2 linked regions of the Homo sapiens genome follow. The protein of the gene in region 2 purifies or fractionates together with the protein of the main gene of each other region. This does not show direct contact. Each region holds a gene or a part of one and is shown on either strand. Other genes may lie near its edges. The genes, in order: HCK and CCR3.

The links.
Region 1: the proteins of CCR3 (region 2) and HCK purify together in Homo sapiens (affinity purification with western blotting, with the first as the bait; one study listed by BioGRID). This does not show direct contact.

Annotation. Positions count from the first base shown.
Region 1 is NC_000020.11:32,072,671-32,076,486, reverse strand, and holds part of HCK (tyrosine-protein kinase HCK), read right to left. Parts: intron 3,169-3,816; coding exon 3,126-3,168; intron 2,772-3,125; coding exon 2,669-2,771; intron 1,865-2,668; coding exon 1,766-1,864; intron 1-1,765. UniProt on the Homo sapiens protein: Non-receptor tyrosine-protein kinase found in hematopoietic cells that transmits signals from cell surface receptors and plays an important role in the regulation of innate immune responses, including neutrophil, monocyte, macrophage and mast cell functions, phagocytosis, cell survival and proliferation, cell adhesion and migration.
Region 2 is NC_000003.12:46,245,460-46,249,275, reverse strand, and holds part of CCR3 (C-C chemokine receptor type 3), read right to left. Parts: intron 1-3,816.

The sequences.
Region 1 (3,816 bases), on a different chromosome or scaffold from region 2:
TACATGAGGTGACCCAGGGATTCTGTAAGTGTTCAGACCCTGGAGTGGAGAAACAGAGCATGGGATGACCCAGGGCAAAGCCTGGAAGAAGGAGAGAGAAACAGCTAAGAGCCCCCAGTTCCATGATCACTAAGAAGGGGTGACATAATTGTTTTTTTTTGACAGAGTATCGCTCTTGTCCCCCAGGCTGGAGTGCAGTGGCATGATATTTCAGCTCACTGCAACCTCTGCCCCCTGGAGTCAAGTGATTCTCCTGCCTCAGCCTCCCGAGTAGCTGGGACTACAGGCACGCACCACCACACCCAGCTAATTTTTTTTGTATTTTTAGTAGAGATGGGGTTACACCTTGTTGGTCAGGCTGGTCTCGAACTCCTGACCTCAGGTGATCTGCGTGCCTTGGCCTCCCGAAGTGCTGGGATTACAGGTGTGAGCCACCATGCCCAGCCAGAAGGAGGTGGCTTTATAATGGGAAAAGCCTAAGCGTTTTCATTTTTAACAGGCAAGCATCCCAAACCCATAATACCATCTAGCTAGAAAGAGGAGGCAGAAGAGACAAAACAATGGGGACTGTCATTTGTCAACTTTTGATTGGCTGGTTTTTAATGGGATGTATTGCCACCCCACAATGTAGTCATCTTTTTACTCATCAACCTCATCCACCATACAGAGAACATCTCCAGCAGGGAGCCCCATCTAAGTCATCTTCTAACCCTGGAATAGGGAATCAACAGGTATCTGTTGGATGATGGATGGATGGATGGATGGATGGATGGATGGATGAATGGATGGATGGATGGATGGATGACTGAAGTATATTTTTAGAGTCAAGCTAGACACAAGAAGAACCCACAGCCAAGAACGATGGGTTATGGAGAGCTCCTTGAGGGTAGGGATATATCTTATTTGTTTCCACAGCCCCTTAGGCTGGCACAGGGCTTGAAGAGTCATGAGCATGTGCTTGTCGAATGAATCAAATGAGGGATGGGCCAGGTGCAGTGGTTCAGGCCTATAATCCCAGCATTTTGGGAGGCTGAGGCGAGAAGATCACTTGAGCCCAGGAGTTTGAGACCAGCCTGGGCAACACAGAGAGACCCCCTCTCTACCAAAAATACAAAAAAGAAAAAAATTAGCTGGGCATGGTGATGCGCACTTGTAGTCCCAGCTACTTGGGAGGCTGAGGTGGGAGGATCAACTGAGCCCAGGGAGGCTGAGGCTGAAGTGAGCTGTGATGGTGCTACTGCATTCCAGCCTGGGCAACAGAGTGAGACCCTGTCTCAAAACAAAACAAAACAACAAATGAGGGACGACTGGCCAGGTGTGAGCTGTCTCACCTCTCCAGAAACCCTCCTTGGCAAGACCGTGTGCTTCATTCAACAATATTTATTGAGCACTGACTGCATGCCAGCCTGTGCCGAGGATGCAGAAGCAGACAAAGTCCCCGCTCTCACCAGCTCTCTTCCTTGCAGGGCAGGCAGAGAATGCACGTGTAACCAACCAAAGAAACCAGGTCGTTTTGCTAGTAAAACATGTTCAGAAGGGATTAAAACAGGTTTCCACAAGACAGAGTCACAGCTGGGACCCACTTTAGCCTCTCTTCCCTGACTGGAAGGATGAAACCTGAAGGAAGAGAAGGAGCCAGCCAAGCCCAGAGCCCTGGGAAGAGTATGTGCCAGGCAGTGGTACAGTGTGTGCAGACGTCCTGAGTTGCAAACAAGGCTGGCTTTGCTCATGCCTCTTTCTGGAAGGTAGGAAATAGGATACTTACTCCTCTGTCTCCAGAGAGTCAACGCGGGCGACATAGTTGCTTGGGATGTAGCCCTCCTTCCGGGTGGCCAGGGATCGAGCCTTCCACCACTCCCCGGATCTGAGGGACATGAGGGAGTAAAGGTGTTAGGGACAGAAGGATCATTCTCCAGTCTCCTCAAGCTCCCCAGCCTTGACCTAGAAAACTCCCTGCCTCCAGAAAGCCAGTAGGGTGAAGGACAGGGCTGTGACTATGTCAGCCCCAGCATGTGGCCATGATTAGGGTAGGGATCCTTACAACAGTTCCTGCTGTGCATCTGAGGGTCTGGAATCTCCCTGTCCACAGCCCAGAGCCCTGGGTCTCTGGCTCCACTCCTTTTCCCTGGACTTGCAGCTTTGGTCTTATTAGCTATACCCATGGCAGGGTCCTGTGCCTATAGAGACTCAGAATGGTTCAGCTGGGGCTGAGAATAGGGGAGAGTGGGCTTGGGAGTCCGACCAGGCATGACCACTCCCGTTCTCGGGCTTCAGCACATCCTGGACACTATACCCATGATGGTGAAGGCTGTAGGAGATCCGAGGTGGCAAACTCAGAGATCCAAGGATTTCCAAATGCAAGGTCGACTCGATGGGGCCTGGTCCACAGGTAAAGCCGGTGGCTTAATCGCAGGAGCCCTAGAAAGGCTTCCCTGAGAAAGCGTCACCTGTTCATCTCAGGCTGGACGTGCACTCTCAGTAAGTGCACAATCCCCTTCATCCAGGTTGACAGCAAACCCTTCCTCCACTATTGTGATTAGCTTCTCATTAGACATTTATACCCAGGATAAGATAGCCCATCTATCAGGTTCTTTATGGAAGCACAAAAGAGCACATAGTTGAGTAGAGGAGGCAGGTCTGTCTTAGGGGGAGTGGGATGGGGACTCACTCCTCTAGGACCACCATCTGGTCCCCCTTCTGGAAGCTGAGGTCTTCGTGGTGAATGGCCTCGTAATCATACAGGGCAACCACGATGATGTCCTCAGAGCCTGCTGGGAAGGGAGACACACAGAGGGTGAGGTTTCGTCTAAGTGCATCCACAGCCCTTGGTGACCCTCACCCGGCACCTGGAACAGCTCCGCACCCATCGATATGTGGTTCCAAGTATAAGTAGGCGTCTCACCATGCTGGGTGTGATTCTCAAGTTTAAAGCTAAATATGTTTTGTTCATGTTACTAAACAGCGTTCTAGAAACACAATAGCCTGCGCAAAGCACTTCAGAGGAAATTTTGGGGATTCTCGACAGGGGTTTGACTGTTTGGGATTTATGCCTCAAGCTAAGGGAGAACCTAGCGGAGTCCTCTGCAGGACACATGACTCCACTGCATCTGCTCGTAGATACTTACCCTCCCTGATTCCTGGTGTGTTGCTGTTGTGGCTATTAGGCCCCTGTGGGGAAGAAATGAGAGAAGAGAATGAATCTGACCAATGTGTGGGGACCCGTGGAAGGTCTGTGTTGAGAAGGACACCCAAGAGCATCTTACCCTAGCCCTGCATGTCGTGGGAGGAGGCCCACATACGGCAGGGGACATGCCTGGCACCACACGGCACATTAGGGGCAGAGCCAGCAAACAAAATGGTCCAGATTTTTTGTTGTTGCTGTTGTTTGAGATGGAATCTCACTCTGTCACCCAGGCTGGAGTGCAGTGGCGTGATCTCAGCTCACCGAAACCTCCACCTCTCGGGTTCAAGTGATTCTCCTGCCTCAGCCTCCCAAGTAGCTGGGATTACAGGCGCATGCCACCATGCCTGGCTAATTTTGTATTTTTAGTAGAGATGGGGTTTCACCATGTTGGCCCGGCTGGTCTAGAACTCCTGACCTCCCAAAGTGCTGGGATTACAGGAGTGAGCCACTGTGCCCAGCCAGGATCCAGGTTTCTTGAGCTGTGACCTCGGCCTTCGGTCTTGGATGTACCGGGGGATGCTGCTTGACCCCTCCCCTCAACACACAGTGAAGGGGTCGGTCCAGATCAGTGTTTTCCGACTAAGTTTGGAGAAATCACAGGCCCACCAGTGATTTATATTCCATAAATAAAG
Region 2 (3,816 bases):
AGATATTTTAACCAAATTATCTGCTTCCCTGACTATTCCTGGACTATAGCCGCATCTCATTGCTGCCCTTCTTCCCAATCCAAAGCCTCCTTTGCGTCCTCTTCTTGTATTCCCCCACCTTAACCCACAAGTATAAGATACCTCTACTCCCTCCTTGGCGACCAATCATGCTCCCCTTACCATCTCGTTAAAACCTAATCACCCTTACCCTGCTCAATGCCAAGATCCCATCCCACAGCACGCTTTAAAAGGATTAAAGCCTGTTATCACTCGCCTGCTAAGGCATGGCCTTTTAAAGCCTATAAACTCTCCTTACCATTCCCCCATTTTACCTGTCCTAAAACCAGACAAGCCTTACAAGTTAGTTCAGAATCTGCACCTTATCAACCAAATTGTTTTGCCTATCCACCCCGTGGGGCCAAACCCATATAACCTCCTATCCTCAATACCTCCCTCTACTACCCATTATTCTGTTCTGGATCTCAAACATGCTTTCTTTACTATTCCTTTGCACCCTTCATCCCAGCCTCTCTTTGCTTTCACTTAGACTGACCCTGACACCCATTAGGCTCAGCAAATTACCTGGGCTGTACTGCCACAAGGTTTCACAGACAGCCCCCATTACTTCAGTCAAGCCCAAATTTCATCGTCATCTGTTACCTATCTCGGCATAATTCTCATAAAAACACACGTGCTCTCCCTGCTGATCCTGTCCGATTAATCTCCCAAACCTCAATCCCTTACAAAACAACAACTCCTTTCCTTCCTAGGCATGGTTAGTGCAGTCAGAATTCTTACACAAGAGCCAGGACTGCACCCTGTAGCCTTTCTGTCCAAACAACTTGATCTTACTGTTTTAGCCTAGCCCTCATGTCTGCATGCAGCAGCTGCCACTGCTTTAATACTTTTAGAGGCCCTAAAAATCACAAACTATGCTCAACTCACTCTCTACATTTCTCATAACTTCCAAAATCTATTTTCTTCCTCATACCTGATGCATATACTTTCTGCTCCTTGGCTCCTTCAGCTGTACTCACTCTTTGTTAAGTCTCCCACAATTACCATCATTCCTGGCCCGGACTTCAGTCCAGCCTCCCACATTATTCCAGAAACCACACCTGACCCTCATGACTGTATCTCTCTGATCCACCTGACATTCACCCCATTTCCCCATATCTCCTTCTTTCCTGTTCCTCACCCTGATCATGCTTGATTTATTGATGGCAGTTCCACCAGGCCTAATCACCACACACCAGCAAAGGCAGGCTATGCTATAGTACAAGCCACTAGCCTGCCTCTTAGAACCTCTCATTTCCTTTCCATTGTAGAAATCTATCCTCAAGGAAATCACTTCTCAGTGTTCCATCTGCTATTCTATGTGCTATTCTACTACTCCTCAAGGATTATTCAGGCCCCCTCCCTTCCCTACACATCAAGCTCGAGGATTTGCCCCTGCCCAGGACTGGCAAATTAGCTTTACTCAACATGCCCTGAGTCACAAAAACTAAAATACCTCTTAGTCTAAGTAGACACTTTCACTAGATAGGTAGAGGCCTTTCCTACAGGGTCTGAGAAGGGCACCGCAGTCATTTCTTCCCTTCTGTCAGACATAATTCCTCAGTTTAGCCTTCCCACCTCTATACAGTCTGATAACAGACCAGCCTTTATTAGTCAAATCAGCCAAGCAGTTTTTCAGGCTCTTAGTATTCAGTGAAACCTTTATATCCCTTATAGTCCTCTGTCTTCAAGAAAAGTAGAACGGACTAAAGGTCTTTTAAAAACACACCTCACCAAGCTCAGCCACCAACTTAAAAAGAACTGGACAATACTTTCACCACTTTCCCTTCTCAGAAGTCAGACCTGTCCTCGGAATGCTATAAGGTACAGCCCATTTAAGTTCCTGTATAGATGCTCCTTTTCATTAGGCCCCCAGTCTCATTCCAGACACCGGACCACCTTAGACTGTGCCCCAAAAAAACTTGTCATCCCTACTATTTTCTATCTAGTCATACTCCTGTTCTCTGTTCTCAACTACTCATACATGCCCTGCTCTTGTTTACACTGCCAGTTTACACTGTTTTTTCAAGCCATCACAGCTGATATCTCCTCGTGCTATCCCCAAACCGCCGCTCTTAACTCTTGAAGTAAATAAATAATCTTTGCTGGCAGGACTATGCTGAATCTCCTTAGGCACTCTCTAATCAGATGTCCTAGGTCCTCCCGATTCTTAGACCTTTTATACCTGTTTTTCTCCTTCTCTTATTCCATTTAGTTTTTCAATTCATACAAAACCATATCCAGGCCATCACCAATCATTCTATACGACAAATGTTTCTTCTAACATCCCCACAATATCACCCCTTACCACAAGACCTCCCTTCAGCTTAATCTCTCCCACTCTAGGTTCCCACGCCGCCCCTAATCCCGCTTGAAGCAGCCCTGGGAAACATCGCCCATTCTCTCTCCATACCACCCTCCAAAAATTTTCGCCACCCCAACACTTCAACACTATTTTGTTTTATTTTTCTTATTAATATAAGAAGGCAGGAATGTCAGGCCTCTGAGCCCAAGCCAAGCTATCCCATCCCCTGTGACTTGCACATATACGCCCAGATGGCCTGAAGTAACTGAAGAATCACAAAAGAAGTGAATATGCCCTGCCCCACCTTAACTGATGACATTCCACCACAAAAGCAGTGAAAATGGCCGGTCCTTGCCTTAAGTGATGACATTACCTTGTGAAAGTCCTTTTCCTAGCTCATCCTGGCTCAAAAATCACCCCCACTGAGCACCTTGCGACCCCCACTCCTGCCCGCCAGAGAACAAACCCCCTTTGACTGTAATTTTCCTCTACCTACCCAAATCCTATAAAACGGCCCCACCCTTATCTCCCTTCGCTGACTCTCTTTTCGGACTCAGCCCGCCTGCACCCAGGTGAAATAAACAGCCATGTTGCTCACACAAAGCCTGTTTGGTGGTCTCTTCACACGGACACGCATAAAAGCAAGTAGCCACCATAGTGGACAGTACAGGCCTAGTGTCCAGCATGATGCCTGACAAATGAAAGATGCTTAATAAACTCTTCTTAAGTGTATGAAAGGATGGAGTAGAATAATTTTTACTCTGCTTTGCACTGTCCAGACTACACATCTGAAATATTATGTTCTGTTCCAGGCACCAAATTTTAAGAGGGTTAGTATCAACCTAGACTATAGAAGGAAGTAGGATGATAACAGTCCCAAAACATCAGCCATAGTTGGCAGAACTTGGAATGTTTTGTATGAAAAATAATAGCCTTTGCATGAAATCAAACTAAATGCCCATCAATGACAGATTGGATAAAGAAAATGTGGTACATATACACATGGAATACTATGCAGCCATAAAAAAACAGATAGTGTCTTTTGCAGGAACATGGATGGAGCTAGAAGCTATTATCCTTAGCAAACTAATGCAGGGAAAAAACCAAATACGACATGTTCTGACTTATAAGTGGGAGCTAAATGATGAGAACTCATGAACACAAAGAAGAGAACAACAGACACAGGGGTCTACTTGAGAGTGGGAGGAGGGAGAGGAGCAGAAAAACAAGTATTGGCTACTAGGCTTAATACCTGGGTGATGAAATAATCTGTACAACAAACCCCCATGGCACGAGTTTACCTACGTAACAAAGCTTCACATGTACCCCCAAACCTAAAATAAAAGTTAAAAAAAAGGAAAATAATCATATTTGGATTCATTTTAGGTTTTGTTTTGTTTTGTTTTGTTTTTGTATGCCTTTGGTCTGGATCAAAGTTTTTTTTTTTAATTAAA